Linked DNA regions of Homo sapiens. The protein of the gene in region 2 purifies or fractionates together with the protein of the main gene of each other region. This does not show direct contact. Each region holds a gene or a part of one and is shown on either strand. Other genes may lie near its edges. The genes, in order: PDCD11, ZSCAN32 and TES.

Region 1 (2,738 bases), on a different chromosome or scaffold from region 2:
TGGGGTTACAGGTGTGAGCCACCACACCTGGCTTCTACTGTTATTTTATATACTGGTATGCATATGCATGTGTGTGTGTGAAAATTTTGTTATCTAAATAAATGTATTTACAAAGAAAACTTTTATGTCACTGCTATAAAGTTTCCCCAGTGGGCTGGGGCCTGGCATGGCCTAGGAGGAGAGGAGAGGAGAGGAGGGGTCTCTGGGCTTGGTAGGAGTCCATGCTCCTCCAGGTGGGCTGGCACGGGGGAACAGGGAGCAGCCTGAGCCAGGTGCTTTCTTTAGCGCCTCTGTGTTCCTCCAGGAGAAGCAAACCAAGCCAGCAGAAGCGCCCCGGCTGCAGCTGTCTTCAGGCTTCGCTTGGAATGTGGGACTAGACTCTCTGACCCCGGCCTTGCCACCTCTAGCAGAGAGCTCAGACAGCGAGGAGGATGAGAAGCCACACCAAGCCACGGTGCTGTATTTTGCAGGGCATGTCCTTTTTGCAGGGACCCCTTGGTGTCAGTCTCTTGTGCTCTGTTCCTAGACTGGGTGTCTTCCTGGGTGAGTGGGGGAGGGGGCAGCGGCCAGTCCCAGGCCAGGGGGTATATATAGAGCCCTGGGCTGCCCAGCCAACTCGTGACTTCCACCACAGACCTCCCCTAGGCCTTGAGGAGCAGATGACTCACGGTGTTTCTGCTTTCCATAGCAGATAAAGAAAAGCAAGAAAGAAAGGGAGTTGGAGAAGCAGAAGGCAGAGAAGGAACTGTCCCGCATTGAGGAGGCGCTGATGGATCCTGGGCGGCAGCCAGAGTCCGCGGATGATTTTGACCGACTGGTGCTGAGCTCCCCCAACAGCTCCATTCTGTGGCTGCAGTACATGGCTTTCCACCTGCAGGCCACGGAGATCGAGAAGGCCCGTGCCGTGGCTGAGAGGGCCCTTAAGACCATCTCCTTCAGGTCTCAGCTTTGCCCCAGGGAGCACAGTGTCTTCGCACGTTCTGGGCTGGGAAGTTTCTCAACCTGTGGGGTAGCTCCTCCTAGGCAGGCCGGCAGCATTTTGGGTGGCTGCCACCAGGGGCCCATGGGTCCTCAGGCTTTCTGCCATAGCTGCGGCCATCTGTGAAATAGATCTACTCATTTATATTTTATAGTCTTCTTCCCTGAAACTGCTAAGGGTAACCTTCACAAGAGTCCATACACTTATATGAGGGAACCAGTTTGAGCAGAAACACAGTAAGAAAAGAACTCACTACATACCTGGGCGAAATCCCTGTGGTGGTTTTCCAAACAGAGGGAGTTTTTGAGGCCTAATGAAGAGGGAAGGCAGTCCTTTGCTTCATCCTCTTAGCTTGAAGAGAGAATCAGACCCAGGACTCTGCGTCCAGCCCAAACCTCAGGCCCGTTTGGGATCTGGTGGGCATCCTTTCTAGGAATGGAGGCAGAATCCAGGAGAGCCTCAGACTCAGCCATTGGGGTTGGGGCAGGGGTTTCTAATGCTGCAGGAGCTGTGGGGACACAGCCTCTTAGGGTCTACATTTGGGGTGGGATCTGAGGACACAGATAGAGGCTGGGAGGGGGAGGTGGTTCCTGAGTCTGTCTGGATGGGGCGGGAGGCTCACTGGTTTCATGTGGCGCTCATGTGCTGACTGCTCTCCCTCCAGAGAGGAGCAGGAGAAGCTGAACGTGTGGGTGGCTCTGCTGAACCTGGAGAACATGTACGGCTCTCAGGAGTCCCTGACCAAGGTCTTTGAGCGAGCCGTGCAGTACAACGAGCCTCTCAAAGTCTTTCTCCACCTGGCTGACATCTACGCCAAGTCAGAGAAATTCCAGGTAGGAGGTTGGGCCACAGACGAACTCCTGGGAGTTCCAGGGCCACAATCTCAGAGAAGAGCCCCTGGGGTGCTGGGTCCAGTCCTGCTGTGAGCTTGCCACCCAACATCGGGGCCCCAACTTCCCTATCTTCCAAGTAAAAGAAGTCATTTCCCTCACCTCTTCTTCAGGCCTGTGGGGTCAAGGTGAGGGAAGGAGTGGCTTTGGAAGTGAAGGGGCAGTGGACCCCTGGTGTGTCTGCCTTGGGCTGCTGGCAGGGCATCACAGACAGAAGGGGACGTCCCGGCCCAGCATCCGCTCTGGCGTCTCTCCTACTCCCCCTTGTCATTCTCATGTTCTAGGCTAGGACCGCCCTCCCATGGGTGCGGATCAGCAGGGAATCCCCTCCGTCGTGTTGTGCCTGTTCACGGTGCCCTTCTGTGAGCCTCCCTCCCGCTCCTCTCAGGTCTCTAGCATTAGGCCCTGAGAGTGATTTGGTGTCTGGGAGCCCAGGTCTAGCTTCTTGTGAGTGTTGCTGCTTGTCTGTCTTGTCCCCTCTGTAGTATCACACTCTCCTCAGCGTGCCTCGTCTTTTCCCACAGGAAGCTGGTGAACTCTACAACCGGATGCTGAAGCGTTTCCGGCAGGAGAAAGCTGTGTGGATCAAATACGGCGCCTTCCTTCTGCGGAGGAGCCAGGCTGCAGCCAGTCACCGCGTGCTGCAGCGAGCCCTGGAGTGCCTGCCTAGCAAGGAGCGTGAGTGCTCATTCCCAGCTCCTGAGCCCATGAGCACTCCAGGATCGGGGAGTAGGAACTGGCTGTGGCATTGCTTCTTCTAAGTCAGGAGAGCCTTGTGAGGGCTTTCCTCTTGCTGCCTGTTGATTCTCTGCCCCTCAGCATAACAGTGCATGTTAAATTTCAAATGTCAGGCTCCAAAAGATGGAGGA
Region 2 (3,654 bases):
TTTTTTTAATTTTCCTGTATTTTTAAGCGATGTCACAGTCATATTTGTACAATTCTTGAAGTTGGAGACTTGAGAAAAAATGTATTATCTTGGTGTGAAAAATATGAAGGGTTTCTGTTACTGTGGTATTTTAAAGAGTACTCTGGTTATCTTTGGGTGGCAGGGCTATGGAGAGATTTTTGTTTGCCCACTACGATTCTCTTTTTTTCCCTGACATGTATATTTTTCTTTAAAATGAAAAAAAAATTAAAGCTCTTATGCCAAGAGGAATCTCATGAAAGGAACTTCTCAACTCACAGAGGCCGTGAGCGCTGGCAGTGGTTCTCAAACTTGAGTTTGCCTCAGACTCATTCGGAGGTGGGAGAGTGATAAAACAGAGTCCTAGGCCCCACCTCCAGAATTTCCGATTCAGAAGATCTGAGGTGGGGCCCCAGAATTTGTATTTCTGATGGGTTGCCAGGGGCTGCTGATGCGGCTGGCCCAGGAGCCCACTTTGAGAGCTTCTGCTCTGTGCTGTTGTGTGGAAGCCGCCCTCTAATAGCGGCTGTTTTTTCCCCCAGCCTGGCTTGCTCCTCAGGCTCCCAGGAACCTGCCTCAAAACACAGGTCTCCACGACCAGGAGACAGGTGCTGTGGTCTGGACAGCTGGGTCCCAGGTGAGCTGTGGTTGATGCCTTCTGTCTCTTGAGTACCCACTCTCACCCCAAAACCCTCCTCCTTTCCAGAGACATGAGAAAGATTCTGTGTGGTCCATGGGGCTTCTCGGGTTATTTTGATTCTGTCCACTCTGACATCATCACATGGCTCAGAACCTGTCCCACTGGGAGCTGACCTCCCCTGCCTTTGCCTTGCCCCTGATCTGACAACTGTGATCCTGTCTCTGCCCCCACCCCAGGCTAGAGTGGTGCTATTTTATCGGTAGCAGCAGCTCCAGTGTTGTTACAGGGACCAGCCATGCGTGACAACAGAGCTGTATCCCTCTGTCAGCAAGAATGGATGTGCCCAGGCCCTGCACAAAGGGCCCTCTACAGGGGTGCCACCCAGAGGAAGGACAGTCACGTCTCGCTGGGTAAGGATCCATCTTCCCTCCAGGTCAAGGTGGATGTGTTCAGTTGTTCAGAGAGGCTGAAAGGACTTGAGAGGGAGGGAGACAGAGGGAGTGGGGAGACTGTTGGGTGGAGGGAAAGGAGGAAGTAAATGGGGAACCAGAGCAGGCCAGAGAGACACAGGCAGAGATCAAAAGAAAGGGGCAGCATGTGTGACCGGCAGTCAAGAACATGGGAGGTGAAGGGTGAGGCGGTGGAGAAGCAAAATGTTAGTGAGACAGAGTCAGAACAAGTAGTCCAGAGCCGGAGCCAGACAGGTGGCCACCAGGAGCACAGATGTGTTCATGCTGAATGTGCGCTCATGCACACAGGTAGCAGTAGTCGCTCCCGAGTTTCCCCAGTGGCAGAGGAGATTAACAAATAAAACCACCCAACCAGGACAGTCTACTATGCCCAGGCCTTCCGGGAGGAACCAGGCCCTTTCCCAGCATCTCAGGACACTTGGGGAAGGTTCTGCCAAGCAGACCGCTCTCTTGCCTTTCTCAAATCAGTTCTGTCCCATCTGGGCCAAATGCCTCCTCCTCAGAGCAGCCTCCCTGACCATGCAGATTCAGAGACAGACACTGCAGCTCACTGGGCCTAGATTTCTCCTCTGCTGCTTCACATGCAGGGTACTCCTGGCTAAGCCCAGGGTGGGAGGGACTACACAAGGCTGTGAACACAGGCCCTGTGACAGTGCCCCGCCTCACTCTACAATGTTGCCCTCCCCAGTGGTGTGTGGTTTTTCCCTGCTCTGCCCCTGCCATCCCTCCCCTCCTTTGCCAGGAACTCCCAGTTTCCTGGCTTCATCATGTGCCATTTCTTGCTGCTGCTTCAGGCTTCTGCACCTCATCTCTGTCCAGTTGCAGGAGAGTATAGTGTCTTTTTGAGCTCTGTATTGAGATTTGTATTACTAAGTATATATGGATAATACAATAAGGTGAGATATAAATATTTTTGTACTTGTGATTTTTAACTTATTAGGTGAAATTCACATGACATAAAATTAACCACTGTAAAGTGAACAATTCTTTGGCCTCTAGCACTTTCAGAGTGTTGTATAATTACCACCACGTCCAGTTCCAGAACCTTTCCATCTCTCCAAAGTAAGGTCCCACAACCATCCAGCAGTTTCTCCCCGTCCTTCCCCTGCAAGCCCTTTGCAGACACCAGTCTTCATTCTGTCTCTGTGGATTGAGCTATTCTGAATATTTCATGTAATGGTACCTGTAATTTTAACTGCTACAACATTAGGCTTATTGAATGAGGGCTTGTATTCCCCACACACTTTTGGTTTCTTGTCAACCATTGAGGATCCTTTAAAATTAGAGGTAAGAGTTGAGACAGAATGTGAGAGGACAAGTCATTCTTTCCACAAATATTAATTTAGTGCCTACAGTATCTCAGACCTAGTTCTAGGTCGTTAGGGATACAACAGTGAACAAACAGATAAAGATTCCTGCCCTGTGGGAAGAGACAGACCATAGCATAATCAGTAAGCGGCAGAAGATGTTAGAGGGCGATAAGCGCAATGGGAGAGAAGCAGCAGCAGAGCAGCGTGATGGGAGTGCTAGGGCAGAGGTTGGTTTGCAGTTTTCAGTTTGGGTCCTCAGGGTCGCCCTCACTGAGAAAATGACATTTGAAAAGACTTGCTGAAGGAGGAGGGATGAGCTATGCAGCCATATCCTACATGGAGGAAGAGTGTAAGACAGACGCAATGACTTGGGCTGGAGCGAGGTGGGCATGCCAGTTCACTGGCACAGAGTACACCCATGAGTAATGAGAAAACGAGCTCAGAAAGCCAGATCAAATGAGTGCTGCTAGCTGAGACTGAGAGGGAGCAATTAGAAACTTTTATAACAATTTGACACTGCTGCACTATTCGGTTGCATTTTTATTGTATTTTACAAAAGAAATAAGCACAAGACTCCTGTCCTTCATAGATAATTTGAGAAGTACTAATATGGGATCATGAGGCCCTACATGAAGGACTTTTTTCTTCTGAGTGAAATGGGGGAGCCTTGTGCGGTTCTGGGCAGAGGAGTAATAGTTTTAAAAGGACCACTTTGAGTATGTCACTTTATTTGGCACTTAACTCTACGTAAACATTTATTTGTGTCTCTTTTTGCTGGAGAGACTTCTATAGGACTGTGACCTCCTTGAAGGCAGGGTTCATGTAATATTTATATTTCTCAGAAACTGGCATTGTAGGCACTCAGTGTTAGTTAAATTGAATAACAAAGGAGGGGACTCCCTCTGGCTGTTGGGTTGAAAGTAGACCGTAGAAGGTCCAGAGTGGAAGCAAGAAGACCAGATAGGCTATGGCAGTGATCCAGGCATGAGGTGATGGTGGCTCAGTGTGGAGAAGAGGGGGTGACAAGAAGAGGCTGGTGCGCTTCAGAGCATCATGACCAGATGTTGGAATGCACTTGCTGGGACAGCTCTAGTCAAATCGGTCCTCATGAACTGGCCCAGATGGGCAGCAGGTGTGTGTGGTGAGGGTTATTTAGTAGCCAGCCATCCTGAACTGCTCTTCTCAGATGTTTACTACTTATTCTTACCTTGGTGTG
Region 3 (3,654 bases), on a different chromosome or scaffold from region 2:
CTACTTTATTTAATTTCACAATAATCCAATAAAGAAGTACTATCCATGTTTTGCAGATTAGATCTCTGAAACCAAGGAGCAACTGTTGCCAAATTACTGAGTAAATATCAAAGGTGGGATCCAAATCTATGTCTGGAAAAGTCAAAGTCTGCGCTGCTTCCTTTAAATTCCCTAACTGTTAGAGAAAAGTGGGCAACAGTGGTCCACAGGATGATCCTACCCTCTGGCTTAATTTTATCTGGTCCATGAGAAAGTAACAATGAATAACATCACTACTGGTTTACCTGGGACATCTTAAAAGAGCTGTGGAGTTAGGCCACTGAAATCTGTCTTGCCTCTTTTTACCTTTAAATTCTGCCAATTATCTTGGGATAACCTTCTATTCCATTACCAAAGATAGAGTCTAACACATATTATTGGAATGTTCACAGAATATATTTTCCATTTGTTGCAGTATATAAAAGGTAATATTTTGTAATTCCCCTTCAAAACCTTAGGCAACTTGCCATTTCCCAAAGAAATGAGTTTTACATGTCTTCGTTTAACACGGAAGTCACATGACCCGGCTGGAATGAATTTGGAGAGGCCTATGTTTCAAAGCTAACAGAAGAGTGACCAGATTAAAAAAAGGAAACCCTAAATATCAAGTAAGGGATACTGCAAAGTTAACTTTCCTCTACAGTTTTTCAGAATGACCAAAAACTACTCTGCTTTGAAACGTGTAGTCTGATACCATACAGAATATCATCTCAGAATACTCTTGATACATGAAAGATCTTCAGAAAAGTATCCTCAAGCCCCTACATTCAACTGTCCCTCTATAGCACACGTGGTAGACTGAAGTAATGGTCCCAATCCTTCATTCCCACGTAATAGTATTCAACATCATATCCCTGCCCTAGCCTCATAGTTGCTAGACTGGACTTCTCTCCTTGACTTCAGAACTGGACATGTGACTGCTTTGGCATAAGAAGAGGCTTAAAAGGTGCTCCTGCAGTTGGGCATGACCTTTACTGTTGGCTTCACTGATCTAAGAAGGATGAAAACCTGGCAACATTGTGGTCCCAGTCCACAGCTCAGAGTCCAGACCAGCCTAAATGAGCTAGACTCTACTGTGAAATTTCCTCCTCTCTCTCAATAGATGACACAATGTATTAAATAATCATCACAGTTAAGGGAGATCAGAAACTCTTCAGCTGTGGGCTAGGGTCTTATACTAGCTCAGTGACATACCTCTTTAATTCAAACCTGTACTGTGGAAAAATTACAAATTACTGCAGCTCATCTACTTTAGCTTTATTTTAGAAGAGACAAAACTGAAAATGTCAAGGGTGGTTTTACTGACTTTTCACAGCCAGGTACCTTTGGTTCATGCTATTTCCTCTTTATGGAATGCTTTCTTTGCCTAATGAAAGCTTCTTTATTCTATAGGAGGTGTTTCCTTGATAAAATAATCGCAACCCACACAATTAAAGTTAGTTACTTCTGCTTCTAAGACTTCATAACAGTTGTTTGTATTTCTATTATTGCTGTGCTACTCAAAGTGGCAGTTCACAAAGTGTAAGTCACTAGTCTGTGATGAGATAGGCAGAGAAACTGACAGTAGGCAATTAGGAACTACTATATACTTAAAGTAATTTTGTGTCTCTTGCATTTAATAATTTTTTTAATTGGCCCTGTATTTGTCTTTTAAGTAATAAATTTTTATTGTGTTTTTAAAAATATCAACCAATGATTAATTTTTGTTTATAAAAAGGTTCCTCATCCCAGATAAGAAATTGTATTATAGCACTTATGTCATTCTATCCAGCACTGTAGTTAACTTACACATCTGTTTTGCTCACTCATCTTCCTTCCTTTTTTAAAAAAAAATCTATCAAAGGTGACATCGGTATTTTGCTCAAGAGGTGATACTGATAGATATGGAGTTTAGAGTCTGTAGTTTTAAATCTAAACTGCACTTTTAATATTCTCTACGAAAAACAAAGGGTAATTTTTTTAACCCCCAGTTATTTTTATTGTAGGCCAGTATCTCATAAAGGAAAAATCAGATCCTTGATCCTTACTTTGTGACTCATTCTGTTAAGACTGTCACGTTGTGGTCATATAAAAACAAAAATCCACCTAACATCTACATGGTCATTTTTCAATGAAACATGATATCACTTTATCATCAAACAAAGCAAGGGAAAAGTTCATTGTGGCTAGAGATGCATTAATGGACTCCTTATCAAGGCATTTCTGCTGGGCTGAATGCCATCTTTTCTGCTGGGCTCGCTGCTCAGATAAGCTATGCAATGAACACCCTGAAACTCCTGTTTACAGCTTTTCACAGTGGCCAGAATGTCACAATGATAAACACAAGCTGAATCACTCATGGTTTGAGGATAATTCAGCATTTCAGATTAAGTATATTTACAGAGTAGTAACTTTGCTGTCATTCAGCAGATGAGATCTCAGCAATCCCCACTAGGCTGGCTTCTAATAACGCTCTCCCACTTTAAGCCATGCTCAAATCTGAGCCGACTCCCCACCATTCTAACAGACTAAGGAACAGAGAAATTGGCAATTCTAAACTATGCTTTTTTACTTTTTTGAATTTGACCAAAATAAATACAGTGATACTTAGAAAATTATAGTCATGCATATCCTTATCGCTCTAATTCCCCATTATCTAACTAGAATGTTAGGTAGACAGGGCACTTAGAACTGAAAATTGACAAAACCATGCTAAATGGCAGCTCTTTTGTAGGAGAGTCAAAGATTGTAGTTGGGCAGTTGAAAAGCATAACCTCTAAATTTAATCCTCTAATAGTGCTTGAGGCAAATTTTAAACATGGATATTTACTCAAAGAACAGTAGTGAAGTTATCAATTACCAAATTATTTTTCTTTAAAATCCTGAAAATCTGCAGTTTTGCAATGTTTTTGATTAGTCTTTTGTTTCCTTATCTTCCTCTCCTAGAAAAAGTTGATTTCATAATTAATAATATAATTTCTCTGGATACCACCACCTTGTAAAAAGTAAAATAATTTCCTGTATATTAATGATTTAATAAACAATTCTTTTAAAATCATAATTTTGGTTACCATGGCAGTAGTTACCAAACAAAAATTAGCTATGACTGCAAACAGGAAATCCAAGAATGACTCTTTTGTAAGGCATTTGTAGGCAGGGAGAAGACTTATAGTTTGTGTATATTATAGGTGTAAGTCTATTTGTATAGCTTTATGCATTCATAATCTTTTTCACATTCTAATACATAAAAGCTGCTTTCTCATTTTCCCATCTTTTACATTTGCTATTACTTAAGACAAATGAAATAAGAATCCCTAATTACAAAGTTTGCAAAACCAAGAATCAAGCCCAGGGATCACCATCAAAATTGCTCACTGTCTGTGTTAGAAACATAGCGTACTGCTAACCTATCAAGAGTTCACTGACGGGTATAATTCCAGTTGTGCTTACTTTCAATATTTACATTGCTCTATCAACACTTGCAATAGCATAATTCTATGATACAAGCTTAAGTTCAGTGTCATTCTTGTTCACAACTATAACCCCAGAGTCTAGAACAGTGCATGGTACGTAAAAAAGCACTCATATAGTTTTTTTTTAATCTTTTAAAATTATTTTAACAGCCTTATTTTGAGA

What was found.
Region 1: the proteins of ZSCAN32 (region 2) and PDCD11 purify together in Homo sapiens (affinity purification with mass spectrometry; one large-scale study listed by BioGRID and IntAct). This does not show direct contact.
Region 3: the proteins of ZSCAN32 (region 2) and TES purify together in Homo sapiens (affinity purification with mass spectrometry; 3 studies listed by BioGRID and IntAct, with this or other methods). This does not show direct contact.

What each region holds. Positions count from the first base shown.
Region 1 is NC_000010.11:103,441,522-103,444,259, forward strand, and holds part of PDCD11 (protein RRP5 homolog), read left to right. Parts: intron 1-304; coding exon 305-454; intron 455-688; coding exon of another isoform or gene 689-691; coding exon 692-939; intron 940-1,643; coding exon 1,644-1,812; intron 1,813-2,393; coding exon 2,394-2,547; intron 2,548-2,738. UniProt on the Homo sapiens protein: Essential for the generation of mature 18S rRNA, specifically necessary for cleavages at sites A0, 1 and 2 of the 47S precursor. Directly interacts with U3 snoRNA. Involved in the biogenesis of rRNA.
Region 2 is NC_000016.10:3,387,424-3,391,077, reverse strand, and holds part of ZSCAN32 (zinc finger and SCAN domain-containing protein 32), read left to right. Parts: intron 1-560; coding exon 561-655; intron 656-894; exon of another isoform or gene 895-944; coding exon 945-1,068; intron 1,069-3,654.
Region 3 is NC_000007.14:116,216,916-116,220,569, reverse strand, and holds part of TES (testin), read right to left. Parts: intron 1-3,654. UniProt on the Homo sapiens protein: Scaffold protein that may play a role in cell adhesion, cell spreading and in the reorganization of the actin cytoskeleton. Plays a role in the regulation of cell proliferation. May act as a tumor suppressor. Inhibits tumor cell growth.